Homo sapiens: one gene and its partners. The protein of the gene in region 4 purifies or fractionates together with the protein of the main gene of each other region. This does not show direct contact. Each region holds a gene or a part of one and is shown on either strand. Other genes may lie near its edges.

Region 1 (7,912 bases), on a different chromosome or scaffold from region 4:
GACCCAGAGCTATGCTTCACCATTTCCTACAGGGATTCAAACACAGCTACTCTCTGTTCTCCCCATCCCACTCCTCAAGTGAGGAAACTGAGGGTGAAGATGTGTGAATGGCTCAGAGCTGAGCTGGCTCTGCTGGTCCTTCTTAGTCTCAGCTGGTCCTGTTCTATAGTGTCCTGGCTGATAATCCAGCAAGTGGACATGCCACTCACAGCCACTGGTTCCATGCAGGACATGAAATGTGATGTCCAGCTGCTGCAGACGTGTCTGTGAAGTTGGCATCTCCAGGAATTGAGAGGTAAGTAGAGCACAGATTCCTCCTACAACGAAAGGAGGAGGCAGGGCAGAAGTACATGGACAGGCAGACAGATACACACACACCCAGGGCCTCAGAACAGTCTTCAGGGCAGGGACAAGGCCTTGGCAAGGCGAGTCCAGAACCAAGATTTGGTGCAGGGGTTGGTGTAGTCGCAGACAGTGATGAACCTCAGGATGCTGGGGAACTCTTTCTTCATTGCCTTGTACTTGATGGGGATCAGTCGCTTCTGATGGGCACCTGCAAGCCAAGGGGTGCCATGCTGGCATCAGGCCCTTGCCCCATGGTGGGACAAGCCCAGTCTTCAACCCCAGGGTTAACAACAGCCATCCCCCATCTAAGTACCCCTGGCACACATTCACTCACACAAAAAGGCACACACATGCACACATGCTCAGGTGTGCAGAGATCTTCAGCAGTTCTTTGGTACTGCATCCACAGTCCTTGGGGAGGGAAGGCTGACAATCCAGAGGCCCCACCTACACATTCCCTCATTCTCTTGCCAGAGCAGGGTTGAGCTTACCTGGAGAGAGGCTGAGTGCAAATTTGGTCTGGAAGTCACATTCCTTGCTCTGCAGGTAATCATCAGAGACAACCACCACCATCCGGCGGCACCTAGGGGAGAGTGGGCAGGCTGCAGGTCCTGTGGCAACTTAGTTCAGCATATCCCCTGGGAATAGCTTCAGGAAGGGCCCACTGTGCCCAGGCTGGACAGTGCACAGCTAGGAGGAGATGCCCAGTATCTGGACCCCAGGGCAGGGCTTCATGCATCCACGCACCCACCCCGTGGCCTTCTAGCCAACCTCTTTTCGATGAGCTCACTAGCAATAGACCAGACACAGGTGCCAGGCAGGACATCGCGGTCAGACACACACAACTTCAGTCGATAGTTTGTCTGTTCCAGTTGCCGGATCATCTCCTGCACAAACTGGATGTCGCTGGGGCAATAGCAGATGAAGGCATCGAAACGCTCAGGCATATGCCCTGGGTGCAGAGCACAAGGGTGGTGGTCAGAGCTCCATGGGAAGGCTTGGGAGGGATCCAGCCAAGAGTCCCCTGCCTAGGCAACCCTGGGCCCTGCACCCTTCCCAAGATGATACTCCTCAGAGAAAGTGCCCTTTCCAGGAGAGGAAAGATGAGTACCTCAGGGGCTAAGCTCTGGATTAACCACGAGACAGACATTATTTCATGAGCATCTCACAGCAATCCAGAGGTAGGACTATTATCTCCATTTCTTAGGTGAGGAAACTGAGGCTCAGAAAGATTAAGTGACTTGCCCAAGGTCTCACAGCCCATCTGCTTCAAACACCCATGCTCTTAACACCACAATGTCCTATTCCACCTGTCCCATGGGAACAGTATTGGACCCTTACCCAGGGGGTCATCAAGTGTGGTGATGCCCGCCAGCTCTGCTGTCCGTGGGACACTGCTGTCTACAGCGGCCACCTGTAAAGGCTTCTCAGCCTCCTCCTGCTGCTGCTTCAAGATATACTTTTGGCAATCCTCCTCTGTGGGGAAGAGACAGAGTAAAGCAGCCTCCCTGGGAGTGCCTACCTCTTTACCCACAGTCAGGATCCAGCCGCTGTCCCACCTCCTCTGGCTGGGTTGTTCTAGAGGGCTTCCCCAGTTCACTGGTGCCACGCGAAGCTCAACGGCTCTGAGAAGTTGAGCTCCCACTGGCTCTAACTGACCCAAAGGGATGTCAGTGGTGTTCTGGCTTTCTGGAAGGCCATCAAAGTCAGGTTTGTATCTCTGTCCCTTCCTAGGGATCCTAAGAATGGTACCAAGGTAGGTCTGCTTCTTCTGGGATCCAGGGCAGATGTGAGCAAGGGGCTGGGCATGCCAGAAAGGCTCAGGAGACCCACTGGTTATGGTGCAGTGATTCCAACTCAGCAAGGTGTGCCTGTCTGTGGGCGGCTGTATCCAACGCCTATGCATGTATATTATGTAAGTGCCAGTGAGTAGAAAGAAGGGCTGCATTTCCCCAGGACTTGAGGTTTCTAAGACAGTCCACTGTCAATCGCCCCACCTGTCCTGTTGCTCTACTTGAAACAGCCCAGATGCCCCCACAGAAGCCTGATTCTGACTCCTGGCCCTACCTGAAAGCCTCTGCCTAAGCTGCTTCCTTCCCATCTCCGCCTATCCGGACCTTTCTCCAGTCCTTCTTAATAACCGCGACCGGTTATTAAGAAGGAACGGGACCCGCATGGTTCTCCCTCTGCAGGCTTCTTCGGGCCCCCGAGGCAGGAAATGGGGTCTCTCCATGGGAGACAGGATGCTGAGGCCGCGGAAAGTCAGCCTCCTCACCCCCCAGGTACGAGGCCAGGAAGGGGACGTCCTCACCAATGCTGGGTCCCAGCTCCAGCAGCACGTCGTCGCGGCCCAGCTTGGTAAGCAGCTCGAGCAGTCGGCCTACAGAGGCGCCAGGGCGTCCCTGCCAGGCGTCCAGCAGCCTGCCAGTGGGGTCCGCTTGTGTCTCCAGTTGCCGGATCTCCAAGTACTCAAAGTCCATCTCCTCCGCCAGCGCGGTCCAGTCGGCCGCCACCTGTGTCCGCACGTTCAAGAACAGAGACAGGCGGCGCCGCACTCGCATGTTGAGAGCAGCCAGGGGAAGGGAGGATGTGGAGGAGACCGGGGCCGCAGACCCCGCGCCGGGACCTCCTGCAGCCATGGCGGGCGGTCCTGGAGCCTCAGCGCGGTCGGGTCGCATTGTCTGCCAGCGCTTCCTCTTTCTCCTGCGGCACCCGCCCCGCCCCGCCGGCTTTCGCTTTCCGAGAAGCGCCGCCCTGCCCTACAATCTGGAGCCCCGAGCAAAAGTGCGGAGGCGGGGGTGCCCACCTCTACCCTTGAGGTCTCGAGGCGGGTGATGTGGGGGGCGTAAGAAGTAGGAATCTGCCTTTTGAGATCTGGAGAGGTCCACGGCACCGCCCTCGAGGGTCTGGTGATGGTGCTAGTAGGTTGGCGGCGGAGTGAGGACGACCCTCCTTCGGGGGTTGTAGGAAACGGGCCTTGCTTTTTGGGATCTGGTGGAGCCACAGTTCTTCCACGGAGGAATCTGAGGGGTTCATACGGTCCTGCCCTCGAGGATGGCGAGGAGGGGACAAGTGGGAAGGCACCAGCTCTGCCCTCCACTGTCTCTGGGGAACACGCAATCCTGCCAGTAGGGGTATGGGAAGACCCCTGCTGTGCTCCCCGAGGTGGGAGTGGGAAACGGACAGCTGCCTTCTGGAGCCTGAGGCATGCCGTGGCCCTGCCCTCGAAATGGTTGGGGACGTCATGACACTAGGTTGGGGAGCACAAGGCACCCTGTCCTTTGGTGTCTGTGGAAAGCCCAGCACTACTCTCCAGGGTCTCAGGTGAAGACATGGCCCTGCTATTGGGAGTCAAGGGGGCACGTGGCCTTGCCCTTTAGGTTTAGGGACACAGTCCTGACCTGGGGAGCCCTGGTTCATTCATTTACTCATTCGACAAGTACTTATTGATCATCTACTAAGTGTCAAGGGTGTCGCAGGCTCCCCGGATACATGGTACCTCTCTGCCTTGGTGGAGACCCCAGCCTAGCACGGGAAATGGGCACTAATAAAATCATTCCAATTGGGTGTAAAACTGGTAAAAGTGTGAAATGTTCATTCTCCAGTTAGAGAGCTTGTCACACCCCGCATGTCTGTAAAATCTGTTCTCCCGGCCAGCCCGGAAGCCCAAATTCCCTGTCTTCTCGAAAGAATGGGAAAGCCCAACCACGTCGGAGCAGGACTCGGGCGTCTCGGAAGTATTTAGGTCCCCCAGCTCGGGTACTGGGACCGGAGGGATAGCAGAGCCTCCTAGGAAGTGGGTAGAGGAATTAGAGCCTCGGCTTCCATCTCCAGCCCCCAAGCAGTAAGCGGTCCTGGCTGCCCAGCCTTCCGTTTGGCTGCGGGCAGGAGACAGGGATTTGGGGGTCAGGTCTCGGGTTTGGCTACAAAAGGTGGAAAGACTTCCGGTCTGCATTTCTGGGCGGGGATTCGTAAAGATACACCTTCTGGTTGGCTGCGGTAGGCCAAGGTAGGCGGGGCATTGAGTGGAAAGCTCGGCTGGGCGGTGCCTGTGGGCCCTCCTATAGAGGGCTTGGTAGGCGGTGGCGGGGAGGGGCGGGTTCCCAGGCCGACTCTCCTTGTGGTTGGCTGAGGCTGGAGGTGGACGGGACTTTTGGAGGGTCGCTCGCGTCTGTTCGCAGAGCTGTGGGCGGAGTTGAGGCCTTGGAGGCTGAGATGTGGTTCTGCGCGTGTGCGGACGGCTGTCTGTTAACTCCGCGGTCAGTTCCCGGACTGGTGGCTGGTCTGCAGGGTTGACCTGCGCAATGCAGAGGCTGCAGGTAGTGCTGGGCCACCTGAGGGGTCCGGCCGATTCCGGCTGGATGCCGCAGGCCGCGCCTTGCCTGAGCGGTGCCCCGCAGGCCTCGGCCGCGGACGTGGTGGTGGTGCACGGGCGGCGCACGGCCATCTGCCGGGCGGGCCGCGGCGGCTTCAAGGTGAGGCCCGAGGGTCTGGGCGCCGAGTGTGGGAAGACGCCGGCGCGGGCTGGGGTCCGGTTCGTATGTTTGGTTATCCTGGACGCCGGAGGCAGCTCCGCACCCAGCTGTGGTCGCTTTGTCTCCCTGGGGTGGGCATGGGGGAGTGGGGGTCACTGCGGCTGCTCTTTCTGCTGCAGGACACCACCCCCGACGAGCTTCTCTCGGCAGTCATGACCGCGGTTCTCAAGGACGTGAATCTGAGGCCGGAACAGCTGGGGGACATCTGTGTCGGTGAGCGAACCACTCAGGCCCTGCGCTGGGCCTTCCCCGTTCTTCCGTTCGTCCAGAGCTCTCCTCACCTCCCCGCCCCGAATTTTCACTGGGGGAACCTCCATGGCCTTGACCTTTGAAGGGGTCCTGCCCCTTCACACCTGTGGGTATTTCTCGTCAGATGGGAGGAGAGACTGAGAAAAGAAATAAGACGCAGAGACAAAGTGTAGAGTGGGCCCAGGTGACCGGCATCGGTCTCCGAGTTCCCTCAGTATTTATTGATTACTATTTTCACTATCTCGGCAAGGGGAGTGCGGCAGTGTGGGGGAAAGGAAGAGAGATCAGACTGTTACTGTGTCTGTGTAGAAAAGGAAGACAGAAGAAACTCCATTTTGATCTGTACTAAGAAAAATTTTTCTGCCTTGAGATGCTGTTAATCTGTAGCCTTAGCCCCAACCCTGTGCTCACAGAAACATGTGCTGTATTGAATCAAGGTTTGAGGGATTTAGGGCTGTGCAGGATGTGGCTTGTTAACCATTTGTTTGCAGGCAGTATGCTTGGTAAAAGTCATCGCCATTCTCCATTCTCGATTAACCAGGTACACAGTGCACTGCGAAAGGCCGCAGGGACCTCTGCCCAAGAAAGCCTGGGTATTGTCCAGGTTTCCCCCCACTGAGATTGTCTGAGATATGGCCTAGTGGGAAGGGAAAGACCTTACAGTCCCCCAGCCCGACACCCGTAAAGGGTCTGTGCTGAGGAGTATTAGTAAAAGAGGAAGGCCTCTTTGCAGACACCCGTAAAGGGTCGGTGCTGAGGAGTATTAGTAAAAGAGGAAGGCCTCTTTGCAGTTGAGATAAGAGGAAAGCATCTGTCTCCTGCTTGTCCCTGGGAATGGAATGTCTTGGGTGTAAAACCCAACCATACATTCTATTTACTGAGATAGGAGAAAACCGCCTTATGGCTGCAGGTGAGACATGCTGGCGGCAATACTGCTCTTTACTGCACTGAGATGTTTGTGTAAAGTCAAACATAAATCTGGCCTATGTGCACATCCAGGCACAGCACCTTTCCTTAAACTTACTTATGACACTGAGTCCTTTGCTCACATTTTTTCCTGTTGACCCCCTCCCCACCATTACCTTATAGTAATGGTATATAATGCCACATCCCTCTTGCCAAGATAGTAGAGATAGTGATCAATAAATACTGAGGGAACTCAGAGACCAGTGCTGGTGTAGGTCCTCAATTGCTGAGCACCAGTCCCCTGGGCCCACTTTTCTTCCTCTATACTTTGTCTCTGTGTCATTTCTTTTCTCAGTTTCTCGTCTCCACCTTGCGAGAAATACCCACAGGTGTGGAGGGGCAGGCCCTCTTCAGGCAAAACGGGGTGAACAGGGTGATGGTGGGGAGAAGGTCAGCAGGAAAACATGTGAGTAAAGGAATCTGCATCATAAATAAGTTCAAGGGAAGGTACTGTGCTGAGATGTGCATGTAGGCTAGATTTTTGTTTCTCTTTACCCAGACATCTCAGTGTAGCAAAGAGTAACAGAGCAGTATTGCTGCCAGCATATTTCGCTTCCAGCCACAGGGCGGTTTTCTCCTATCTCAGTAAATAGAACCAATAGTCGGCTTTACACCGAGACATTCCGTTCCCAGGGATGTGCGGGAAATAGAGGCCTTCCTCTTTTACTAATCCTCCTCAGCACAGACCCTTTACAGGTGTCGGGCTGGGGGACAGTAAGGTCTTTCCCTTCCCACGAGGCCATATCTCAGGCTGTCTCAGTGGGGGGAAACCTTGGACAAATACCCAGGCTTTCTTGGGCAGAGGTCCCTGCGGCTTTCCACAGTGCATCATGTCCCTGGTTAATAGAGAATGGAGAATGACGATGACTTTTACCAAGCATACTGTCTGCAAACATATGTTGACAAGGCACATCCTGCACAGCCCTAAATCCCTTAAACCTTGATTCAATATAGCACATGTTTTTGTGAGCACAGAGTTGGGGCTAAAGTTACAGATTAACAGCATCTCAAAGCAGAAACAATTTTTCTTTGTACAGATCAACATGGAGTTTCTTATGTCTTCCTTTTCTACATACACACGGTAACAATCTGATCTTTCTTTTCCCCACAATCTTCAGTCCAGCCCTCTATTCCACCCCTCACCTTGAAATACAGCAATATGATATGGCAAGAGTCTTATCCAGCGGATGCCACCCCTAGGTCGGCAATCACTGTTCCACCTCTCTGGGGTGACAGCAGGGCTCACAGGAGGATACCTGGGGAGATGTGCATTTTCAGAAACTCCCATTTCACTTTTAAGGGCAGACAACCTGCCCATCTGTGCTGATTTGGAAAAGCTGGGTGCATGGGCAAGTGAGCGTGGGACCCTCAGGGACAGGAGCTGGTGGATGACCAGGACAAGCTGTTGTATGGCTGGCTCTCCCTGCCCCAAACCCTGATGTTCCAGAGTTGCAAGTGAGCCTGCCAAGGGCTAGTGTCCCGAAGAAAGATCTGGAATGCCTCATCTCTGGTTTTCACAGCTATACTTTAGTGCCCAGAACACCACCGCCTGGCACTGAATGAAAGTTTGTTGTCCACAGGAAATGTGCTGCAGCCTGGGGCCGGGGCAATCATGGCCCGAATCGCCCAGTTTCTGAGGTAAACTTTTCTAGTTCTAGCCATGGGTTGGCCATTTTGACACTTTACTGGGCCCAGGCCCCAGGAAACTCAGTGTGCAGGTTGGGGAGGATAAGGTTGGACACCAGAATGAGGCAACGAGAGTCCTTGGCTCCCTGCTCTTGTGGACTCAACCTCTCCCCTACTTTGAAGTGCTGAGC
Region 2 (8,072 bases), on a different chromosome or scaffold from region 4:
ATACATATTGAGCATCTACCATGTGCTCAGCATTTTATTCACATTATCATGTTTAATCCTCACAAAACCTTATAAGGAGGTGGCATTACCACCATTTAACAGATAAACTAATACAAAGAAAAGTTATGCAGTTTCCCCAAGGTCAAGGGAATGGTAGAAAGGCCATAGGCTTGTGGCCGGGCACAGTGGCTCACGCCTGTAATCCCAGCACTTTGGGAGGGCGAGGCGGGAGGATCACGAGGTCAGGAGTTTGAGACTAGCCTGGCCAATATGGTGAAACCCCATCTCTACTAAAAATACAAAAATTAGCTGGGCATGATGGTGCGCACCTGTAGTCCCAGCTGCTTGGGAGGCTGAGGCAGGAGAATCACTTGAAGCCAGGAGGCGGAGGTTGCAGTGAGCCGAGATCGTGCCACTGTACTTCAGCCTGGGCGACAGAGCAAGACTCTGCCTCAAAAACAAAAAAAAAAAAAAAAAAAAGAAAGAAAGAAAGGGCATAGGCTTCGGAATCAGACAATGTGGTCGTGTGACTTTGAGTCTCAAACAGAAAATGCAGATACTAATTAACTAACCACAGGTAGTAACTAACGCTTGTTTCACAGACTTATCATAAAAAGATCAAGTATGTGAAAGTCCCTTTTAAATTAATTGTAAAGCACTGTTCAAACTGTTATTATTTTGGCAGAGCTGCACTTTGGGGAGGACCACTTATTTACCACATACAACCTGACCTACGGTCGCTTCCAAACACAGGCCATTTAATCCTGCCTGCTATGACAAGAGGACTTCACACTAGATTGGACTTTAAATTATTAACGGTCTTATTGCTATACTAATTTAGCTGTGGTTCTGTGAAATCACCTGGGGGAAAGAATTTTAATAAAAATTCAATCTTCAGTCCTCAATTTAAAAAGGGCTTCCTCTGGGCCAGGAGTGGTGGCTCACGCCTGTAATCTCAGCACTTTGGGAGGCCGAGGTGGGCGGATCACAAGGCCAGGAGATCAAGACCATCCTGGCTAACACGGTGAAACCCCATCTCTAATAAAAATACAACAAAAAAGGGGAGGTGGGCTTCCTCTGAAAAATAAAATGTAAATGTAGTTGATTTTAAAATGTGCTTTTAAAAAAAAAAGTCATCCTAAGTTCAGGCTAAAGAATAACCAGACCGTCAGTTAAAGGCTTTCCTTTTTTCAGCTCTGATATATTCACATGGCTATGGAGATGATTCCATTTGATTTCAGAACTTCATAACACTCATAATCTTTGATATTTTTAATTCATAGTCTCCTGTATGGCTAAGACAACTTCCTATATATCTGATCACTTCTAAAAGACATTTACGGTACTCTTTCATTCACTCAAAAGAATTTTATTGAGGGCCTCAGACAAGTACTAGACACTATGCAGACACAAATTCATAAGACTTGGGCCCTGCCCTCTTGGAGCTTACAGTCTAATATGGCACAAAAAGAAACTTGTACAAGGTACTGGACCTGCAAATGAGGATCAGGGAATAAATGCAGTGACTTCAGATAGGGATAGATCATATATGGCCACACCATGATAATGCTTCACAGTGGAGATAGAATTTCAATAAGACAGAGAGAATTTCTTAGGGTTTTCACAAGTAGAACATGTTTTAGGAAGATGATACAACACGAGGAAAAACAAAGATACAAAAAAAGTTTTAGATGTATCTGACGGGAAGGGGATGGAGATTCTGGAGAAAAATAGATAAGATTAGCTGGAGCAATGCTTTATGAGGAAAATAATGGAAGATAAGGCAGGAAAGGCAGCTTGGAGCCAGAAGGAAGACACCATTATGCTCTTGGTCAATGAATGATACACTAAATGTGGGTAGTTCAAGGGAGATTCTTCTACAGTAGTGTTGCACAACATGGAAACAAGATTCTAAGTGTCCAGGAGTGTGATATGAGGGGCCTGAACTACAGGGTAGTTCTGGGAATAAAAATTAAAACATAGAGGGTAAAATACATCAGGAGGGAAAACGGAAATAACTTTAGCACTAATAGAGAGTAAGGTATTGGCTGGGCACAGTGGCTCACACCTATAATCCCAGCAGTTTGGGAGGCCGAAGCAGGTCACGCATTCAAGACCAACCTGGCCAACATAGTGAAACCTCGTCTCTGTCTCTACTAAAAATACAAAAAATTAGCCAGGCATGGTGGCGGGCACCTATAGTCCCAGCTACTCGGGAGGCTGACCAGGAGAATCGCTTGAACCAGGAAGGCAGAGGTTGCAGTAAGCCAAGATTGCGCCACTGCGCTCCAGCCCAGGCAACAGTGCGAGACTCCATCTCAAACAAACAAACAAAAAAAAAGAGTAAGGTATCAAAATTATTCTGAGCTGTAGTAGAGCTAGAAAAACCTAGAGGAGCTGATTCGATAACTGTAGGGGTGGGAGAGGATAGAGATAAGGAAATGTTCTTAAACATCCTTTGAAGGCTAAGGAAATCTAAACAAGTTTGAATTTTGCAGTGGTCTCTTGTAACATGAACTTCAGATTTTTTAAAAAACTATATAATAAAATGATACTCAAAGTTTATCTGACCTTCGTCCTTTGACCTTGGAAGAAATCACTGTAGTGTTTAAGCAAGGAAACCAGCACCATGTTCTCATCATACTTGATTAAGAAGTAAGGAAGAGCTGTGACTCCTTCTGTTTGACAAAGATTATCATATGCACACTCTAGTGCTTCAATCTGAAAACAGAAAACACGTTGTTATTCTCTAGAAAATTACATTTCTAGTTCTGGGCTAAAAACTAACTCAAAAAAAAGGTACCTTAAAACCAGAAGACTAGAAATGACTGATCACACTCCTCTTACTCTATTACAGCAAGTGAACATAGAAGTGCCTCCAAATAATACCACTTAGCTTTTATATAACACTTTCCAGGGGCATGGTGGTGTGTGTCTTAGGGGCACAAAGGGACTACAACATGGTAGTTCCCTAAGCTGTCAATCAGAGTTTTAGAGCGGTAACGAAACATTCTTTCTCTCCTATGATAACCCAACATGAATCTACCCCTGATGAATTTTACCCCGAACCTTTCCATAATCTTCAACAGCTTTACTGAGACATGACTAACATACCATACAACTCACCCATTTACTACTTTTTGAGACAGGGTCTTGCTCTGTCACCCAGGCAATCACAGCTCACTGCAGCCTCGACCTCCTGGGCTCAATCAATCCTCCTACCTCAGCCTCCTGAGTAGCTGGGACCACAGGCACACACCACCATGGCTCAGCTAACTTTTTTGGTATTTTTTATAGCGATGGGGTTTCACGATATTGCCCAGGCTGGTCTTGAACTCCTGAGCTCAAGTGGTATGCTCACCTCTGCGTTCCAAAGTGCTGGAATTACACTATAGTTGTGAGCCACCGTGCCTGGCCCAATTCACCCATTTAAAGTACATAATGCAATGTGCTGTTTGTTTTTTTAGTATGTTCACAGGGTTATGCAAGCACCACAGCAATAATTACAGAACATTTTTGTCCTCAATAAAAGAAACCCCATACCTGCCAGCAGTCAATACTCAGCCAAAATCCTTTTTCCTTACTTATATTTCCTCTTGGGAAATTAGTTCCACAAAACCACAACCTCGGATTTGTACGAACAACAACAAAAAAAATTTAATCAATAATGGCTGCTCCCTGAACAGCTCCAAGAGAGCTCCCTGAATGATGGCATCAGTATTCAGGGCTTTAGTGATTGATGTGTTTCAAGAATTCAAATCATCTTGACACATAATCTTTGCCTTAACAACAATAAGAATTCTCTAGTTTAGGGTCTCTGTTATACCAGCCTGATTATTTTAACTGCTCTTCTGGGAACCATCTCTAATGAACTTATTATCTATCCCAAATGTCACCGACTAACTCTGCATGTACTGCTCCAGGTAGAAAAGTTCTGCAACTTGGTACAAGGGTAGGAGAATGCCTTCTGTTTTGTTTCAAAGACTCTTTCCCAGACTATACTGCCTTATGTTTCCCCACATTGAAAATGAAGACCACATTTTGGTAAATTCTTTCAGTGTTTCAAAATATTCCTATAATTCCCCCTTACTGGCTTAGCATTTCACCAAATACCACTGAAAACCTGGAAAATTACTGTGCACTACATCTTCAAAATGACTTTACAGACCAGGCAGGGTGGCTCATGCCTGTAATCCCAGCACTTTGGGAGGCTGAGGTGGACAGATTGCTTGAGCCCAGGTGTTGAAGACCAGCCTGGCCAACATGGCAAAACCCCATATCTATTAAAAGACAAACATTAGCCAGGTGTGATGGGATGCCTGTAGTCCCAGGTGCTCAGGAGGCTGAGATGAGAGGATCACCTGAGCCTGAGAAGTTGAAGCTACAGTGAGCAGTGATCGTGCCACTGCACTCCAGCCTGCGTAATGGGGGTGAGACCCAGTCTCAAAACATATATAAATATATATACAAAAAAATGACTTTACAAACATTTTCTAAATAAGTCTGCTCCTAGTACCACCTTTGGAGGATTTCAGTTACCACGTCTTCATCCAGAGAAGTGCCTGTTTGTCTTTGGAAAGAACTACATAACTACTCTTGCACATTCAACCCAATTTTATGTGCATTTTGGTTATTTGTTGATACCTGTTTTAGTGAAAACCTTTGATCCAAACCCACTGGCCCCTGAATGAGAGGTAAACTCTCTGGAAGACAGAGGGCAGGATAGCAAAACCAATAGTAGAAGTGGTACTTCTTTAGATCCTAGAAAAAAAAGTATAAATAAGTTATTAGAATAGCACCATTAACTTAAGGTGAAATGCATCTATTAATGTAGCTTCTCAAGGCCAATTAAGATAGCAAAGCTATGCAAACAAAGTCTGTCCAGCTTATCAAATATCCTCATCCCCAACAGAACTCATGATCAAATAAAGGACTTTTGTATTCCCAAAATAGTCTCATATACCACCACTAATAATATGATGACAAACATAATATACTTTATTGACCACTTGCTAACAGAAAATGTGCAATATGTAATTGATATTATCATCATCATCCTTTAACCTACAAAACCCCCCTGGGAGGTATTTACTATTATCCCATTTTATAAACAGAAAACTGAATCTTACAAAGGGGTAAAAAACCTAAACAACAACAAAAAAGATGGCAAGGGGCAGAGAAGAGATCAGAACTCTGCTTCCAAAACTTAAGCTTTTTTCCACTGACCATAGATACTTAATGTACTATCTACAGAAGCACAACTTCCAAACAGTTACCATTCTCTTCACAATCAAATAAATTACATGTTATTAAGGAAGCTGTGCTATTCACATATGTATGCATGCCTGAAATAATACAATATTGCTTTTGTAAATGGCTTAGTGGATTTAAGTCAACAACTATCAAGCCCTTGCTATGTACAAGGCAAAACATAAGACACTGACAATAAGATGAATAAACCCCAGTCCCAGACACCAGGCAGCTCACTTTGTGGACAGAGCAGAGATAAAGCGAGTGCATGATTAGAGCCATGGAGAGGCTCTAAGTAGTAAGCTGGATGGGTGAATAGAAGAGGTTACATCTTCACGGGTATATCTGACCGATCCCCCACCAGGGTAGGAGATCCAGGGGAAAGGATTTGTGAGGCTGTCTTTGACACTGTTCCCACTCACGCTAATGGCTCTTGCTTCAGAATTCTTACAGCTTTTGGGGCCTTAATTAAATTCATGGTAGCATTCCAGACATATGTGGGTATTTGGCAGCTTGCCTACAAGCCTGTGACCACTGAATATGAATGCAGTTTATGTAGCTAATTAATATTTCTTCTTGAATCTTGCTAAGAATTAAAATTGGATGGTTGTTAGATGACTTTTTATTGAGATATAATTTACGTTCCATAAAATTCACCATGTTAAAAAGTATACAATTTAGTGGTTTCTTTTTAGTATAGTGATATGGTTGTACCATCATCACTATTAATTCCAGAATATTTTCATCACTCCAAAAAGAAATCTCATACATATTAGCAGAGACTCCCCATTCCCCCTCTTCTCATCCCCTGGCAACCACTAATCTATTTTCTGTCTCTGTGGATTTTCCTAGTCTGGACTTTTCATATAAATGAAATCATACTAGATGAGTTTTAAAATGTAAATGTATATGTAATCATGTGTACAGATGAGAAAGTCTAATAATTGTAATCTCTGCGGTCTCTAATTCTGCTATTCATTGATCAACTAAGAAAAAATTCCCTCTTCACAATGGCAAAATGAACTGCAAAGCTGAAATTAATGAACTGTCTAGTCCTATGAGTCCTAAAAAACAGCAGAAGGAAAGCAAAAACACCTCCAGAGATTATTTTCTCTTCTTTGTACTTAAATGATTTGTCATAACCGATATTTAGTAAAAGGTTAAACAATTCAAGATGAAGAAACTCACAAAATCTTTTTTTTTTTTTTTTTGGAGACAGTCTTGCTCTGTCACACAGGCTGGAGTGCAACGGCACGACGATCTCAGCTCACTGCAACCTCCACCTCCCAGGTTCAAGCAATTCTTCTGCCTCAGCCTCCCGAGTAGTTGGGACTACAGGCTGCCATGCACAGCTAATTTTTTTTTTTAATTTTAGTAGATACGGGGTTTAACTATGTTGCCCAAGCTGGTCTCAAACTCCTGAGCTCAGGCAATCCGCCTACCTCGGCCTCCCAAATCGCTAGAATTACAGGCATGAACCACTGCACCCGGCCGGACCTCACGAATTCTAAGAAACTTTATCAGGTCATTTTCAAAAGTCAAAAAGCTTGCATTTCTTAGGATTCTTTTCAGGATAGAAATGACCTCCATTAAATTAAACATAAAGTCCTTGGTGTCTGAAGATTTTAAAAAGTAGATACTTACAATTTTTTTTAAGTCAGGCTAAGAATGCTCAGTAAACAAGGCAGCAAGACCAACACACATACTGACTCTAGGCAAACCTTAAAACTTTAAGTAAGAGCTAATGTTATTTTTCTCATTAAATGCAAACTGTCAGCATGTTCTACTATGAGAATTCTTGGTACAGAAAGCGTACTGACGTTCAAGTAACTAGAAATCTTTAACTAGCAATGCTTACAATTTATCCCAGTAAAGAGCCTACAGGCTGCATGCGGTGGCTCATGCCTGTAATCCCAGCACTTTGGGAGGCCGAGGCGGGCGGATCACGAGGTCAGGAGATCAAGACCATCCTGGCTAACACGGTGAAACCCCCTCTCTACTAAAAATACAAAAAATTAGCCGGGTGTGGTGGTGGGTGCCTGTAGTCCCGGCTACTCAGGAGGCTGAGGCAGGAGAATGGCATGAACCTGGGAGGCAGAGCTTGCAGTGAGCCGACATCGCACCATTGCACTCCAGCCTGGGTGACAGAGCGAGACTCCGTCTCAAAAAAAAAAAAAAAACTACAGAATTACCCAAACGTATAGACAGATTATTAATGCCAAACTGAGCCAAGTAATCAGACAAAAAATTTAAACATTTTTCTCTCTCCTCCACTATTACATAGAAAGCATTATAACTTGTTAGAAAATGTGTTCCTTGTAGATAGCCACCCACTGGCCTTGTTTGATTGCTATCATACCCTCCTTTGCCTTGGGCAATAAATCAGAGGCCTCCCCTGCATCTAGGAATCTAGGAGGAACGGTGGGAGGTCGGGGAAGGAAAACTTGCCAAAAAAAGAAGTGGGAAAGAGGATTAATGTCCAAAGCTGATGATGCTGTGGTGAAACAGCACACTTAATACACAGCAACATTACTGTGTTTATATGCCCGCTCCAAAGAACTTATTCTAAAGAAGTAAAATGAGCAGGAGAAAAGATCAATATGGCTAATATTATATATTTTTCAATATACCACAGTATTTTTTTTTTTTTGAGACAGGGTCTCACTCTGTTGTCCAGGCTGGAGTGCAGTGGTGCAATCATGGCATGCTGCAGCCTCAATCTCCCAGGCTCAGATGATCCTCCCACCTCAGCTCCCCAGTAGCTGGAACCACAGGCAGGCGCCACCACACCCAGCTAATTTTTATATTTTTTGAAGTGACAA
Region 3 (8,072 bases), on a different chromosome or scaffold from region 4:
CCACTGCAATAGGCAATGAGAAGGGGTGACAGCCGCAAGTGCCAACTGTCTACAAGGTAGCCAGGAGTGTGACACCAGGCCCATATGGTGGCCGCAGGGGTGGCTGGGTTGAAAGGTTGCTCTGGCCAAAGCGCACCGGCAGCTGCTTCACTGGAGCAAGAGTGTTGAGCTGGCCCCTGCCCCAGGAGTGACATCCTGTCCCCAGGGAATGAGAGAGAGAGGGCCTCAAGGAGCAGACGGGCTCTGGGGGTCTCAGCCTCTGTCCCCTGCACCCATCTCACAGCTGCCGCGGACATCTATGGAAGCCTGGGGAGGCTCCCAGGCCCACCTCCTAAAGGCTGGAGGCTGGCTGTCAGCCAGCGCCATCACTGAGGGCACAGCAGCCTCTGGCCTGGTTGTTCATTAAAATCGCGTGGGGAGGAAAACATGCAGGTCCGAGCCCCACCCCGGTCAAATACATCCGAATCCAGAAAAACGAGCCTGAGCACAGAAAGCTAAAAAATCGCAGTGAGCCTGCACACAGAGCCGCACCCAGCAGACACACGTAGGGGCTAAGAGCAGGCTCTGGAGTCCATTTGAATCCGGCCTCAGATGCTGATGAGCTGTGTGGACTTGCACCAGTTACTCGATCTCTCTGACCTTTGGTTTCCTGGTCTGTAAAGCGGGGATGAGACTAGCAATGACACTGAGGTCGGGGCAGAGATGAGAAGGGGCGATGCGTAAACACGCCTAGTCCACAGTGAGCGTTCAGTATTAATTAGTATTACTGCTTTATGCGTTGTGTTTTGAAGGGAAGGGGCAGGGAACAGCCATCAGTGATCTGGGGCCATTTCTACAAGTTAAGCTGGGGTAGGCGTCCTCCCTTCACTCTCACGTTCCCAGCAGTGATCCCAGGCCGGGCCCAAGGCTGGCGTGGGGGTGGAGCTCGGCTCCTGCTCCTCTCACCCTGCAGGAAGACAACAGCAGGGAAGGCCGCCAGCTGCCCCCTAGTGGCCAAGGGCAGACGCGCACTGAATCGCTTTCACCTCATCCTGAAATCCCTGCGCCGGCCCCCACCTTTCCACTCGGCCTCTTTGCAGGTCCGTGGGTCCCAGAGGTTCTGGCTGGCAAGGCACCAACTACAAGGGTTTCCTGATGGCTAATGGCATTTCGGAAAGCACCAAGCTGACTGCAATATAAAGTTCAAATAGGGCCGGTGGGGGGCGGGGGTGGGGAGTGCCAGGCACCCGGGCCAGAACATTTGAGTCTGTTTTCTCCATCCAGCCAGTTCATTTCAGAAAGGAAGGCGCGCCCCAGGAGCGATGGCAGGTTCTGCTTTCCTGTCTTACACAGGTCTGTGCTCTCGTGGGTGCTTGTGATTCTGGAGCTAGGAAGCTCAACTTCTCCCTCCGCAGCAGCAGCCTAGAGTTGTGCTGATGGACTGAGAGCCGTGTCCCAGTCCCTCTCCAGCAAGGGCCATCTGGGAAAAGCCACCTCATCCCCAAGACGCACAACAAAGTGACCCCAAACCCTATTTCCCTCCATTGCTGAAGAGCTCCATGGAGGAAACAGCTGGAGAGGGGACAGGGACAGAGGGAGGTGCTGGTGGCCTGGAGTCTCTACTGTTGACACAAAATCTTTTTATTCCCCATTTGCCATCTTTTCCACAAACCTCTCAGGTACAGATCGGAAGAAAGTGCATATAAACCCTGCCTTATTTAACCAGGCCCACCGCCTCCGGGACAGCCCCTGGGGGAGCCCCATCCCGCTAGGTAGAAGGGAAGGCCACACCAAGTGCTGAGTGAGCCACCCAGACAGCAGGTGCTCTGGGAGGGAGGGGCGACAAGGGGTAGGGGAAGGCTTCCTGGAGGAGGGAGAGGCCTGGCCCTGAGAGACAGGGGGCGGTCCCTGAAAAGGGAGAGAGAAGGCACACTTCTCCGGGAACCAGGCCCCAGCACCTGAGCATTGGACCCAGGCGGCCAGGAAGAACACAGGCCAAGGCGGGGGCCTGAAGCAGATGGGACTGTGGGAGCTTCAGGGAAGCAGCCCTTCTCGCCTCAGGTCTGGAGTCTCAGAGGACCCTCCTAGGCCTCCTGCTCGGCTGGCTCCAGAGGATGCAGAGGGCAGACCATGCCTCCCTAGGTCCCACCGCTGGGACTGCAGAGCTTGGCTGGCATCGCCAAGCGGCTGGGGCCTCTCCAGCAGTGTCAGGAGCTGGGCGCTCGCTGGCCAGCACAGAGTCGAACTGCAGCCCCCAGAATAATCCAGAAAGGGGCATCTGGGTGGGGCTGCAGTGTCGTGGGCTCCTCTCAGAGGCCATCCAGGGCTTGCTGGACTCGGCTGTCCAGGGAGGTGGCTGAGTGGATGGAGACGCCGGGGGCACCGATGCTGGTTTCCAAGCAGTCAAAGCCACAGCTGGTCAGGGCCTGCTTCGTGGCCTCCACTTCTGGCTGCTCCAGCCCTGCGGGGAGGGAAGGCAGGTCACCCTTGACAACTCTCCGCTCCGTGGGAGAAGCTCATCATATTCAAGGCAAAAGCCCAGGCCTTCCTGCTGTGCCTTCCTGGCTGTGACCCACCTGAGCCAACAGGCCATAAAGCCCAAGGTTACCTGCAGCCCCTCCGTGCACTGGAATGCCCAGCCTTGCACCCCCAGGGGTTTAGGGAGCAAGAGTTAAAAACATGGGCTCTCAAGTCACAGGACTTGGCCTTGCCTTGTACTGGCCGTGTGGCCTCAGACAAGTGACTTCCCCTCTCTCAGTCTCAGTCTCCTCATCTGGGAATGGGGCTAATGATGACTCCCCGTGCAGATCTCAGGGAGGCTTAAAGGAAATAACGCAGGTAAAGTGCCTGGCACAACACCTGGCACAGCGGGCACACTCCAGAAATGTCAAGTCCCACCATCGTCATGGGCTCTGAACTAGGAACCAACAGTTGGGGTTGGCTGGAGTGAGGATGTGGCCACCTCCTGAGGCCTGGGAGCCATCATGGAGTGTGAGGGGATGTCTGGAGCCTAAGGGGGCTCAGTGCAAAGCAGAGGGGAAAGGAAGGATGAAGAACAGAGAGGAGGAGATAAAGACAGAAAGAGAAAGAAGGAAGGAAGGAGGGGACAAGGAGCACAGAGGGAAATGGAGGCAGGTGGGACCGGTTAGTGCCTACTGTAGGCCAGGAGCGAGCCTGAGGGCAGAGGTAGGTGTCAGGTGGTTAAACACTAGCAGAAGCCCCTTGCCAGGCCCCCAGGCACCAGGGAGCTTCCTAAGCCAAGCCCATTACTCGGTCTTCCTCTTTCCCCAAACCAACGGGAAGGAAACCCTTTCGTTTTGTAGCAAAATCAACCGCATCCTGACCACATCAAGGGTACAAGTGGGGCAAGGTTAGGCAGACGTGGAGAGTGACAATGCCCTGGTTACTTCCCAAGCTTGTGCGGACAGCCCCGATGACAGGAGCCCCAGCCACAGCCCAGCCCTGCACCAGGCTCTCTAGGTGCACTTTCCTGCTTGAATCTGGGCAACGATCTTGCAAGCTAGATACTCTCATCCTTATTTTACCAATGAGGAAGCAAAGACCAGAGGTTAACTAACTTGCCCAAGGCCACACAGCGGAGCTGAGACCTGTTTCCAGGTCTCTTTTTCCTTTCAAGGGAATTCTCCAGGTGGACCCCTCTTAGGAGCCCAGGCTGGCAGCCTGGCCCACCTACCCCCGGGATACCTGGCTTGAGGAGTGTGATGCCACAGCCACCACCGCCTGCGCCAGTCAGCTTGCTGTGAAGTCCGCGGGCCCTGGTCACCTGGCAGAGCTGGTCCAGAGAGGCGTGGCCCACGCCGAGGGCATTCAGATGGTGCTGGTTCATGTCAATGAGCTCCTAGGGGAGAAGGTTCCATCTGTTCCCACTTGGCCTGCCTGAGGCCAAGGTCCTATGCCCACCCCTGAGCCTGCCTCGTCCATCTGACAGTTGTTGGCTGGAGACAGCCAACGGCTTTGCCTACCTGGCACCCTGGCCCTCTCCACTTGTAAAAGAATCCTTCTGCCCTGCAGCATTTCTCACGGAGCTTGGGTAGAGCTGAGCATACCTTCACCACAGCAGTGAGCACATATCCTAGGGCTGGTCACAGAAGCCTCTGGCACTGGTGACTGATCAGGGATGGGCATGTGGTCCAAGCTGGGCCAATCACAGCCCTCCCAGGGTTTCCTCTGCCCCTTCCCACTAGAGCTGCTAAAATAATTAACTTCAGACACAAGTCGCCAAGATGACCTATCTTGCCACATGATCAGATATTACGTGGCAGATGGACAGATTCCCGACACATTGTTTCAGCCCCTGGATTGAGCTATACCTGAAGCCATTTACCTCTGGTCTTCTCAGTTGAGAGCCAATACATTCCCTTTCTACAAAAGTCTGGTTGAAATGGATTTCTGCCATTTGCAAGAGAAAAAGTTTCAAATAACATGCCTCCCTACAGCTGCCTTGGGGACTGGTTTCAGAATAAGAACTAGGTGTAACTCCAGCAAGGCCATAAGCAGGGAAACAGCTGTTTGTCTAGGTTTCTTCAGTTATGCAGGATAAACTTCCTGCTCTTTAAGGATCCAACAAGATGCATGTGGATGAAAAAATAAAACTTCACAGCTTCCACTGCCCAGGCACCCAGTAGTTAGATTTCATTTACCAAACACCCACAACGTGCTGGGGCTCTAAGGATGGGTGCCCAGCCACGGTCCCAGCCATCAGGAAGTAAAAACCATGGGATTTGGAGTCAAGTAGGCCTGTGTTCGAGTCTCTGCTCTGCCCCTTTTTGGTCGTGTGTCCTTGAGCAAGGTCTTCTGCACTGGGTCTGTCTCCTGCTTGTAAACCGGGGTCATAAGAGTATCTGCCTCAGCAGGGTGTGGTGGCTCACGTCTTTAATCCCAGCACTTTGGGAGGTCGAGGCGGGTGGATCACTTGAGGTCAGGAGTTTGAGACCAGCCTGGCCAACATGGCGAAACCCCATCTCTACTAAATATACAAAAATCAGCCACGTATGTTGGCGTGTGCCTGTAATCCCAGCTACTCAGGAGGCTGCGGCACGAGGATCATTTGAACCTGGGAGGATGCAATGAGCCAAGATTGTGCCACTGCACTCCAGCCTGGGCGACAGAGCAAGATGACTCTGTCTCAAAAAAAAAAAAAAAAAAAAAATCTGCTTCTTTGCCCTGAGACGAAACAAGGTGAGTTTTCTGTTCAATGCCTGGCACGAGATATGTGCTGTTAGTATTTTTATGGGTACGTTAGCATCATCCCCACTTTACAAAAGGGGAAACAGAGGCTCAGAGAAGAAGTGACTTGCCCACGATCACTGAGCTAGTAGGTACCAAGCTGGCACTGGAAGGCGGGTCTGCCTGACATGAAGCTCCTGTCTACCCTGCCTCTGAGAGCACCCCCTGGCATTCCTCACTTCCGTGTGAAGCTCTGTTCCGGGGCACCTGGATTGCCTGTATACCAGGAGTTGCCAATCACTGAGGCATCTCTGCGGAGGCCCACCTAGCTCTCCCGCATGGGGATGGCCGGTCAGGCAGGGTTGGAGTGGCCCTCCCCAACAGCCTGCCTCATACCTCGCTCTGCGCCAAGCTCACCATTTTTGACAAATGAGCAGACAGGCATGATGGCCTGGTGGCAGCCCCGGGTGCCTCTCACCAGCCTGATGGGCTGGATGTGAGAGAAGACTTCTGGGGGCCGCTCTCTGCGCCTGAGCACCAGGTGTCACGTTGCCGAGGCAGGTTCCAGACACCTGTCACATTCTGATCCAAAATCTGTCAAGGATCAGATGACAGGTTGTGACACAGGAGAACAGTTCGCTGGTTTGAGTGCAAAGCTGTCCAGGAGCTGAGCTGCACATTTCAGCGGCTGCCACAGCCAAAAATACACACAATGTATAATCAACGTGCTGTTCTGTGGCATTCTCCAGGGACTCGACAGGGTGTATTTTAGGCAGTATTCTATCATTATTGATTTCCTACTCGGGGGGACTGTGTTCCCTCCTTTCTATGTGGAAGGAATTGAGAGCTAGGAAGACAAAGACTGAGGGAATGAGGGCCGAAACACAGGAATTCGATGGAGGCGCTGCCCTGGCACATAGTAGGTGCTCATGACAGATCTGTTGAATAAAGGGACAGACCAGTCCGTCGGCTGGACCCCTGGCTCGGCCACTCACTAGCTGGATAACCTTGGGGGAAGTCTCTCTTCAGGCCTCAGTTTTTACATCTGTAAAATAGGGATAAGACACCTACTTCACAGGGAGGTGGGTGTGAGGATCAAGTGAAAAGAATCATTTGTAAAAGGCTTGCTTTAGTGGCAGCTTCCACTCAGCACAGGGGCTACAGACTCGAATGCCCACGGGGGACCGGGAGACACCAGGCAATGACTACAGAGTGCGGGGCGCGGGGAGGGACTGTGGTGACATGGAGACCGCACGCCCCTCTCCTGTCCCTTCACTGACGGCTGCTGCACAGCCACGGCAGCTAGGGGCCACCCGATCCTCTCATTCTGCAAGGGCAGCCAGATGGCTAACAGCCCATATTCACCAGGCCAGGTGGACTGTGTCCAGGGGGAGCCTGGGCTCTTTGGTTCCCTAAGCTCATAGCACACCAGACATTGTGCTTGCGTGTCACCCATGAGACTCCAAGCATTTTTTGTGTGTGTGTGAGACAAGGTCTCATTCTGTCGCCCAGGCTACAAACTTGACCTCCTGGGCTCAAGTGATCCTCCTGCCTCAGCCTCTCGAGTAGCTGGGACTACCGATATGTACCGTCATGTCTGGCTAACTTTTGTATTTTTTGTAGAGACAGAGTTTCACCACATTGCCCAGCCTGGTCTCGAACTCCTGGACTCAAGCAATCCACCTGCCTTGGCCTCCCAAAGTGCTAATACTACAGGTGAGCCACTGCGCCCGTCTAATCTGAGCATTCTTAAGACACTCTAGCGAGGCCACACGTCCAGCAGAAGTGGAGCTGGGATTCACACACAGGCCTGATCACACCCAAAGTACCAGGTCACAACCTCTACACTAGAATTATGCAAATGGCAGTGGATGGGGTTGCAATGATGAAAAAACAATGTTAGGATCTGTCTGACCCAAAGCAGGCAGTTGACAAGTAGTTGTTGAATGCACCCATGAAGTTAGCAATAGCAGGAGAGTGACCAAGAAGTCACCCCTGCACCGACAGAGCACTCTGCATCAGCCACATCCCCATCTACCTACGTGGGCCAGAGCTCCTTAGAAGTGACCCAAACCTGTTTCCATTGCACTTAGCACGAGCCAGGCCCTGGCCTCCCTTGCACTCTCCCAATTACTCGGAATCACCCAGGAAGAGGCCTGAAAATAAGATACGCTTATATGGCACGCACAGACCTGGGCCCAGCTGAGAGCATAGGCCAGAGGCAGGTCCTGACCTCTATGTGCTAGCTTCCGGGGGATTCTGAGCACAGCCAGATTGCAGAGCCACTGCCTTGGACAGTGGTGTGGACTCAGTAACCCCGGTTCCTGCAGACAGGCTCTTACTTCCAGCACGAGGTACTGCTCCGGGGCTGGGGCTTCCCCCATCTCTCCCAGCACGCGCTCACACTCCAGGGAGATGGCATCTATTGAGGTCAGGAGGGGGGCCACGATCTCTGGGAACTGGAGAAAAAAAGAAGGAACGGCTGGTGAGGCCTGGGGGCAGGCAGATGCAGGACAGCTGCCCCAGCAGTGGGGTGGAGGGAGGAGGTGTTCACACAGCCCGTGCCCATCCTCTGGGGAAACCACCTCTCTTCTGAGCCTGTTTTTTTGCCTTCCCAGCTGCAAAGTCAGTGTGTCTAACGAGCCCGACCACTGTCATTTTCCTGGCCAGGCTACGGGCACGGACGGTACCTTCTTTTCTGCCAAAACCACCTCCCTAAGGGCCCCCACCACCCACCACACCCCCTATAACCCATCAGCCAGAGGGAGACCTCGAAAATCCAGATGTAATTGTGTCCTGGCCTTCCTGAAACCTGCCCAAGAAGGGAACAAGAGTCACCTTGAGCAGCCTGTTTCTGACGCCAGCCACAAGGGCCCTGGTATTGCGAGGGACTTTGGTGTTGGTCA
Region 4 (8,072 bases):
CAACCAAGAGAATATCATCCTACTGAAAGGTTTATAGACTATGCTTGCTAATGTCTTTTTCAGTCTGTTTTGTAAAATAATACTAGTGTCAATGTCACGCCAACAGTACAGAGGGAAATACTAGAAATATATGGGAGTAATCATGAGCAGTTATCCCTAGAATAGAAACAAACAAACAAAAAAAGGACTATTACTTGTCTTGTTGCTGTTTATGTGGAGACCACAGGCTATGAATTGTCTTTGAGGTGAGGTCACAGGTGGGAAGGACCTTCAATATCTACCATAGGGGTGTTCCCTGTATCCCCCTCTGGCTGACCTTTGCGGTGGTGCCTTCAAGCTAGAGCGGGTTGTGGCCCATTCTTCTGGTGCTGTGAAAAAGAGAAAGATAGTAACACACACATGACTTCACAGTTACCAAAAATAGTCATTTAAGACACAATAGTTGACCGAGAAAAAGAAAACAAAAGATCTCAACACCGAACGCTAAAGCCTATTTTTTCCACATCGTGAGACCATCAAAAAAGTGTGTGTATATAAATGTGTACTGTGTATTTATTATGTGTTAGATTTAAATGCCACAAAATAGAAAGAGGAGTATCAATGTAAACCCCTGCCCATAAAATCTTTTTACATAGAATTCTTAAAAATAAATAAATAAATTGGATATAGGAAACCAGTAGTCCTTAGCCCTTGAATAACTTGAGAATCACCTGGAAATATTAAACAATCAAAATAAAAGATAACTAACACCTGCTCTCTGTCCCCCAAATCTACTGATTAGAAAACTCTATGGGCTGGGACCTACGGTTTGGTATTTTTCAAATACTCCCCAGATGATAGTTATATGGTCCAGGGTTGAGATCCATTGTGTTAAATTGTATAGAGAAAGTGAGAGACAAGCAGAATATAGAGTAGAAAAAACCTTAAGCAGCAAAATCAGTAAACAAAACAAAACACAAAGATATCAGTTTTTCCAAGTAAACAACTCAGTAAATAAAGAAGTATTAGTACACCAGGAAAACTCCATTTACCTGCTAATTTTGGCTAGGTTCCAAAACATTGAGGGTAGTAGAAATCTATTATTCCAAAAAAGCAAGAAACAAGTAACCAAGCTTTTGAGTACTGTGGAAAATAGCTATTGTAAAATCTGTGTCCCCAGAAAAGAAATGCAATTCTTCTTTAAAATAACTCAATGTTGGCTTTATGGTGACATTTTATGTGATTCCAGCAACTAGGTTATTTTGGTCTCTCAATCAGAATTTAGTTCCTCATCAAGAGCAGATTTCATGCATGGGTGTGTAAAAGGAGGTGCAGACAAAGGAAAGAAGGTTACTAGAGACGCATAGATATTGATAATTGATATATAAAAAAATGGAAATATTAACTGGGAAACAATTGCAGATTGAGGGCAACTAATGTAGGGCATTTGCCCCCAGATAGTTCCTCCGATCATAAGAATTAGTTGAGAAAGACTACTAGAAAAGCATAAAAAATTTCAATTGTACTCATTATAATATAGAGCAAATGAAAACAATCTACTATGTAGAAAAATGATCAAAAGTTTATCATTGTTGGGAAAAATGGCACTTAAGTGGACAAATATTAGTTTTTTGAGAATATTCTCACCAGGGCATTATTATTACAACTGATACCTGATAATAAATAAAAAATTATATCTCTTTCACTGTTTAGTCTTTTATAGGATATAAAATAGGAGTAAGAAAGAAATAAATATAACAAATGTTCCCATTGCTCAAAATACAGGTTTACTTGGATCAGAGGTTGGCATACTCTGGCCTGTGAACCAAATTTGGCCAGCTGATTGTTTTATAAATAGTTTTACTGGAACACAGGCATGCTGTTTATTTACATATTGTCTATTGCTGCTTTCACGATACAAAGGAAAAGTTCAGTAACTGTGATAGAGATTATACTGCTTGAAAAGCCTAAAATATTTATACTCTGGGCTTTTACAGAAAAAGTTTACAGATCTGTGCTCTAGACCATGTTGTTTTTGGTGGGAAAATGCAGATGTTGGTCTTTCTGATGTAATCTTTTGAGGGCAGGAATTTATCCCCAAACCATTTGACTTTATCAACATAAAAATGAAAAGAATTCCATGTATTTGCTTGATTGGAACTAAATAAAACTGTTTTTGGTGTACTCAAAGGGAAAACACATTCAGTGTGTGCAAGCTTGAAAGTACCTTCTTAGCCTTATGTAAAATGAATATTTACACCACGTTTATGAGATAATCCAGGCTATATCATTGTTTTTGTCCTCTGATGGTAAAATGTATCCCAATTTATCATGGTTTTTAACAAAAAGAATGTACTACTTTTTGCTCCAATTATTCCAGAGTGTTAGAAATCCCTGGGTTTCACTCTACAGGATTTAAGAGCTGAGACAATAGAGGCTTCAAGTTTTCCCAGGAAATAGAAGTCCCAGGTCCTTTTTTAGATTCTGAATGTTCCTGAAAAACAGCTAAACAATCATGAGCGGAGTGACAGAATACTTGTCACATACACTCCCAGATTTTTTCAGAATTTTAAATTGACATAAACCTAGGGACTTGCTACAGAGGACATAAGTGTTTAATAACTACTCATCAACTTGGCTTCAGTTGACTTTTTCTAAATCTCTAGGGCAGTTAATTGATGAGCTAAAACTCTTCATTTCCTAAATGTTAGCCAACATTAGAATAGGGACTGTTGCTATTCACTGTTGTTTCCCAAGTGCCTGGGAGAAATTCAATGCCTAGTTAGGGCTGAATGTAGTGAAAGGTTACATGAAAGAAAGGATGGATGAATGAACAAGGGAACTATGCAGAAAGTTCCAGTGATAATTCAAAAAACAGAAACAGTTGAGCTAAAGAAATTTAACATTTATTTAAAAAACTCTTTAATTAGAAATCTTATATATTTGTTATAGAGTTAAAGATCAGACTTCTTACTCAAAAGGGTTATCTAAGTATCAAAAATATTTCACTATTGAATTCAATGAAGTAATCGTAGTGCGATCTCATTATTAAAAAGTACAAAAGTATCATATTTCATGGCACAAATATGTGCTCTTTTATAACGCTCTGCTTCTATGTGAATTAATACTATGCTCTTTCTCCTTGCTCAAGGCTAGGAAAATGGAAATTATTGTTAGTTCATGATACTTGTACGTGGAAAAGTAAATCGCCAGCCAAAGTGATTTCCTATCCAAGCAAAAGTAAGTTTCTAATTTTCCAAGATTCCATACCATTAGCAGAGGAAATTAAGGACTTATTTCACTTAATTCAGACCTTGCTTCCATTGTTTACATGTTCTTGGTAACAATAGCAAAGAGAGATCAGGAAAAGTATTATTTTTATTTGTGTCCATCTTTATCTTTCCTAATATCAGAATGTTTATGTATAGTTACACATTTACAATTGCCACATGATAATGCACGTCAGTTTTTCTTAGTGAAAATATGTTCTTTGGATTGAGATTGGAGAGTACTGAACCAATGAACGTTTTTCCAGTGCCACCATAGAGTGTGTCATTGAACTTTATATGGTTGGCCAAGCCCCTCATTGCTCACCAGCGATATTTAGGCCTCTGGATTTCTTCACTGCAAGTACCACATATAGAAGGGATTCTAACCTGAGTCCCATGGAACCTTGAGCATGGAAGAGGCCCAAACATAGGGAGAGACAAATCATGACTGGGTTCCTCATGATGGGAGTTTCTCTGAAATTTGAAGTTGTAAAGACCCACGAATGAACTTAGAATTTATCTGTCCTCTTGGGTCTCTCAGTAGACAAGCAGATTCTAAATATTTAAAGCCTTCCTACGAATTTTAGAGTCCTGTTTTTTTCTAGTCCCATGGTGTGGTCTAAGATGTCATTTAAAAACTCATTGCATCCAGTGAAATTTAGAAATTTCTTTATCCTTTAGGGAAATGATAAAATAAGTAAGATTCTCTCAATATCAGGATCATTGTCACATGAGAAGCACTGGCTAGGCTATGAATTAATCCAATAACAAATTCCTCCTCAAAAAAGGTACCAAATAACTATACGCCAAATTGAAATTATGGAATGGGTTACATAATTGTGAATCTGAAAATAGCAAATCAGGATATGAGAAACAGAAGTTAAGTGACTTGATCCAATTGCCACCCTTTTTTGGCTTCCAATTCAGGCTTTAAAGTATCATATATTATAAGAAATATTAGATAAATTTATATTTATTATATGAATAATAAAGCATCACTAAACACATTTTTTATTTATTGAAGATCTCCTATATGCCAGTTACTATACTATGTCCTGCATATAAGGACAGTTTAAGGGGCCCATAAAAGACACAGGAAAAAATGAACCTGAAATTTCATAGGTTATGACACAATTTTAATTGATGTTTTAAGAAAATGCTGGGGAAAGCACAGGGAAGGGAGGTCTAACTTTCATCATTCAGTTGAACTTGCATTGAACTCTAACATTTAATCATCTCAAAGAAGAGATTTTCTGAGCAAATATACTTAGTAAGAACACAGGTGCTGTTTAACTTATCTAAGAGAATTCACTTTCTTTAAAGACTTTCCTGTGTTAATTATTTTGTATTATCTGGCCTTGTTTCTAAACTGGACTCTAAGATCTATGAAAGGAGAAATCGTCTACAGTGGTAGACACTGAATAAGAGCAAATAAGAATATTTGTAAGCTGCATATAAATAAATGGTGCTACTAAATAAAAAAGGGGTTTCAAACCAATTATGCAAAATAAGTAAAATAGAACTTTTCAGAAAGGCATTATTAGCAATTAGGTTGTCATGTTGCATGTATACAGTATATGTCAATATTTCTTTCAAAAGTTCTATCTGTTTTTTATTAACTTAGGCTGCTATTTTACCCAGTGAATCAGGTTTTACAGACTGCCTAGAGTGCATCTCTATTTCATGGTAGTCAGCGTCACTGAGGAACATTTGACTGTGATAGAAGAATGTAAATTACCTAGGTAACTCCTGTGCATTAAATATTACTGTGACTTCAAAAGTTTCTGTATCTCAAATACTGTGCGAAATGAGGCCTATTAAGTGCTATGCATTTGTCAATGTGTTCTTATTTCTGCAGTGGGACCAGGTACCTTGGGGAGCATTCACAGTGGGAAAGAAAAATCTGGATGATTTTTAAAGTTGCAAAACTGTGTTCTCTGATAGTTCCAGAGATACTGAGGTAGTTGGGAAAAACATGAAGCATAGGAACGAGGGGTCAATTCAGGAAAAGTTGACATTATTTAAGTATCTGGAAAGCAAACTTTTAATGTTTATCTTTCAGGAAGTAGTTTTAAAATGCCACCTAAGAGGAAATTAATATTAGAGATCAGTTCAGAAAGGATAAAGGAGATCATGGAGCTTACTGAGTGCAGTCATGATACTCTTATTTTGCTATCTTAGATAGCTATTTGTCTGTATATCTGAAATATGGAAAAGAATCTAAAAAGAAGCTTGTTAAACCCACAGCAAAACGAAGGAAGCTCATGCGATTTTTGGTACACTGTAAATCAATATGCAAAAATCACAACTAAAGTAGGAAACCCAAGTTAGTCTCTACCATTACAAACCGCTAGTGTTTTTGCTTTGCAAATCATATAATGGCATTACGACATGGTTGATTAAAATTCATCCTGGCTTTGAGCCACTCAGTTTGTTCATCTCAGCTAAGTTTCTGATGTTTCTAAGGAGTATTATTCTATTTGAAAGCACCTTTCAAATATATGTTTGTTGTTTTGAGGCTATTTAATCCCAAAGAATATGTTAGGTTAGATGTTTTGCTATTGTTGCAACTCACTATTATGATAGCATCCATTTTATTTACTTAATGTTTAAACACCTATCATATTTTAAAAAACTCTATCACAACTTTGAAGGGCCTATCACAGTGCTAGGTGTTTTGTGTATATTATTAGCAAATATCACAATTTTCCTACAAGGTAGCTGTTGACACTACCTTCTTTTTAAAGCTGAGGAAACTATGACTCAGAAAGTTTAGTTGTTGGGAAAATACAGAATTTTTGTCTCTAAATGTCTCACTATCTATTCACCAACCCTTTCTCTTTTTCCTCTTTTTTTCCCCCTATAAAACAAGACTTAATTTATTTTACTTCCCTTAAATTATATAATTAGTATTAATTATATAATAATTAGTGTTGATTCCAACAACAATTAATTAGCCAAAAAAAATGAGATTTACTGTAGTTTTAATTTTGTTAGCAAGAATGTGGGCCGCTTCAACTGAATTTGTGAAGGTGCAAATCCAAAGTGGAATGCAGAGTTCTCTGCACTGCTCTGAGCATTTTAAAATATTAATGGAAATTTGCAACTCAATGGCTCAACCATTTCAACTGTACAACATGTATTCCCACTATTTGTAATTATATAGTTTATTATTTTAAGATGCAGAGGGTAACAGAAGAGGGAGAAATATGGGTGACCAGCATCTCTTTTCACAGATGAACATGGTGCATTATGTTCCAAGAAAAAGGGTTGCTAACTTTGAGTTCACCATCATTTGTCCTCTCAGAAAATTCAATCAGCTTCTGGGAAGCATTTACAACTTTTATCACTCTTTCAAATTTTTAATTAGATGTCCTCTGTTAGAAAAAATGTATCACTTGGGATAATCCATTCAGAGAGTAACAAAGGACTTAGCCTTTCTTTGAACTCCATTCTCAACCCTAAAATCTTACCATGCACATGGCAGGCACTCAGTAATCATTTACTCAATAAATTAATTATATTTAAATATTTTGCATCTTCCTTTCAGACCCATAGGCTTCCCTCAGATGGATTCCTTCACTTTTGAACGGTAGTTCCCAGAGTCTTACAGATGTTCTGCATTTGCATTACTATCCTGCCTTTTTCTTGTTGAAAGATTCCTTTCTGCAATCTTAAAACCATTTTTTAACTTTTCTGTATTTTTATATTATTGTGCTTAATATCTCCAATTTACTTTATGTATATACCTAATTTCCATATTATAACCTGGTTTCACAATTTTATCTTCTGTGCCTAAGCTTAGTTGGTTTGAATTACTGCTATATTCTAATTGTGAACTCAAGGAAGCTTAAAAAATATTCCTGACAAACTTCAGGCTGTGCCAAGAACAATATTCCAGGTAGTTTTGCATGTGATGCATAATTTTTATCAGCTTCTGTTTTCCCAGGTGAGGCCACTGTGATTTGCAATATTAGAAAGAATCCCCATAATTCAAACTTCTTGGTGGTAGTGGTGGTGTTTTCAAATTGCCTATTCAGTTCTAGTCCCTGTCCTATACATTATTGTATTTAATAAATTGACTCAATCTGTACCATTTTATTTCTAATTATCATCCATTAATAATTGAAAATTATATATGTCATTAAAATTTAAACAAACATATTTTATGCTTGACTCTGCTGTATAGTATCCTGCAGCTGTAGAATAATACAGGCCAGTGGTTCTTAACATTTTTAAATAAGTGTGTGTCTATCTTATTGCTATGGAGTTAATAACTCATTTAAATAAAAAGGAGACAAAGAAGCTAGCTAGAGAAAGGATTTTCAAAATGGAACATACAGAAAAAATGGTGAATGATAATTTGGCACAATGTAGAAGGTTATCTGACTAAAGTCTAAAACGTACTTTCATTATTGTCAAATAAAATGCTGAATCATTCAAAAGACTGCGGAATTCAGCTAGAGGCTTTTTGAAATGCACATAAGGAGTTTATAATATGAGGAATAACAGAAGGGAGAATAAAAATGGTGGTATAAAGTAATATGGTATAATTCTCTTCTCAAAGAATTCCAATACTCCCTTTAACTCAGTGAAGAAGGTAGGCTTGGTGACAGAGCTTCATAGACAGAGATTACATTTGTAGTTACCTGATTGTCTTACTCCCCCTACATTCTTCATTTTTCTACCTAAGAGCAGAAATGAGCCATAGTTATAGCAATTAGAGAAAATCAGGTTTTCAGCTCTACAAATGTTAATCTTTCTGTATGACCTACTCTAAGTGCAAGTGCCTGTGTTTATACCACAGTGTGCCTTTCCCTGCTT

What was found.
Region 1: the proteins of KHDRBS2 (region 4) and ACAA1 purify together in Homo sapiens (affinity purification with mass spectrometry; 2 studies listed by BioGRID and IntAct, with this or other methods). This does not show direct contact.
Region 2: the proteins of KHDRBS2 (region 4) and ATG7 purify together in Homo sapiens (co-immunoprecipitation; 3 studies listed by BioGRID and IntAct, with this or other methods). This does not show direct contact.
Region 3: the proteins of KHDRBS2 (region 4) and MVK purify together in Homo sapiens (affinity purification with mass spectrometry; 2 studies listed by BioGRID and IntAct, with this or other methods). This does not show direct contact.

The regions. Positions count from the first base shown.
Region 1 is NC_000003.12:38,133,773-38,141,684, reverse strand, and holds the start of ACAA1 (3-ketoacyl-CoA thiolase, peroxisomal), read left to right. Parts: upstream 1-4,557; 5' UTR 4,558-4,649; coding exon 4,650-4,820; intron 4,821-4,999; coding exon 5,000-5,093; intron 5,094-7,675; coding exon 7,676-7,733; intron 7,734-7,793; exon of another isoform or gene 7,794-7,912. Other genes in the region: myeloid differentiation primary response protein MyD88, read right to left, coding at 399-553, 837-928, 1,093-1,297, 1,687-1,821, 2,657-2,984. UniProt on the Homo sapiens protein: Responsible for the thiolytic cleavage of straight chain 3-keto fatty acyl-CoAs (3-oxoacyl-CoAs). Plays an important role in fatty acid peroxisomal beta-oxidation. Catalyzes the cleavage of short, medium, long, and very long straight chain 3-oxoacyl-CoAs.
Region 2 is NC_000003.12:11,309,993-11,318,064, reverse strand, and holds part of ATG7 (ubiquitin-like modifier-activating enzyme ATG7), read right to left. Parts: intron 4,762-8,072; coding exon 4,645-4,761; intron 2,722-4,644; coding exon 2,572-2,721; intron 1-2,571. UniProt on the Homo sapiens protein: E1-like activating enzyme involved in the 2 ubiquitin-like systems required for cytoplasm to vacuole transport (Cvt) and autophagy.
Region 3 is NC_000012.12:109,590,794-109,598,865, reverse strand, and holds the end of MVK (mevalonate kinase), read right to left. Parts: coding exon 8,005-8,072; intron 7,626-8,004; coding exon 7,509-7,625; intron 3,839-7,508; coding exon 3,685-3,838; coding exon of another isoform or gene 3,674-3,684; intron 2,441-3,673; coding exon 2,289-2,440; 3' UTR 741-2,288; downstream 1-740. UniProt on the Homo sapiens protein: Catalyzes the phosphorylation of mevalonate to mevalonate 5-phosphate, a key step in isoprenoid and cholesterol biosynthesis.
Region 4 is NC_000006.12:61,680,693-61,688,764, forward strand, and holds part of KHDRBS2 (KH domain-containing, RNA-binding, signal transduction-associated protein 2), read right to left. Parts: intron 369-8,072; coding exon 271-368; 3' UTR 1-270. UniProt on the Homo sapiens protein: RNA-binding protein that plays a role in the regulation of alternative splicing and influences mRNA splice site selection and exon inclusion. Binds both poly(A) and poly(U) homopolymers. Phosphorylation by PTK6 inhibits its RNA-binding ability.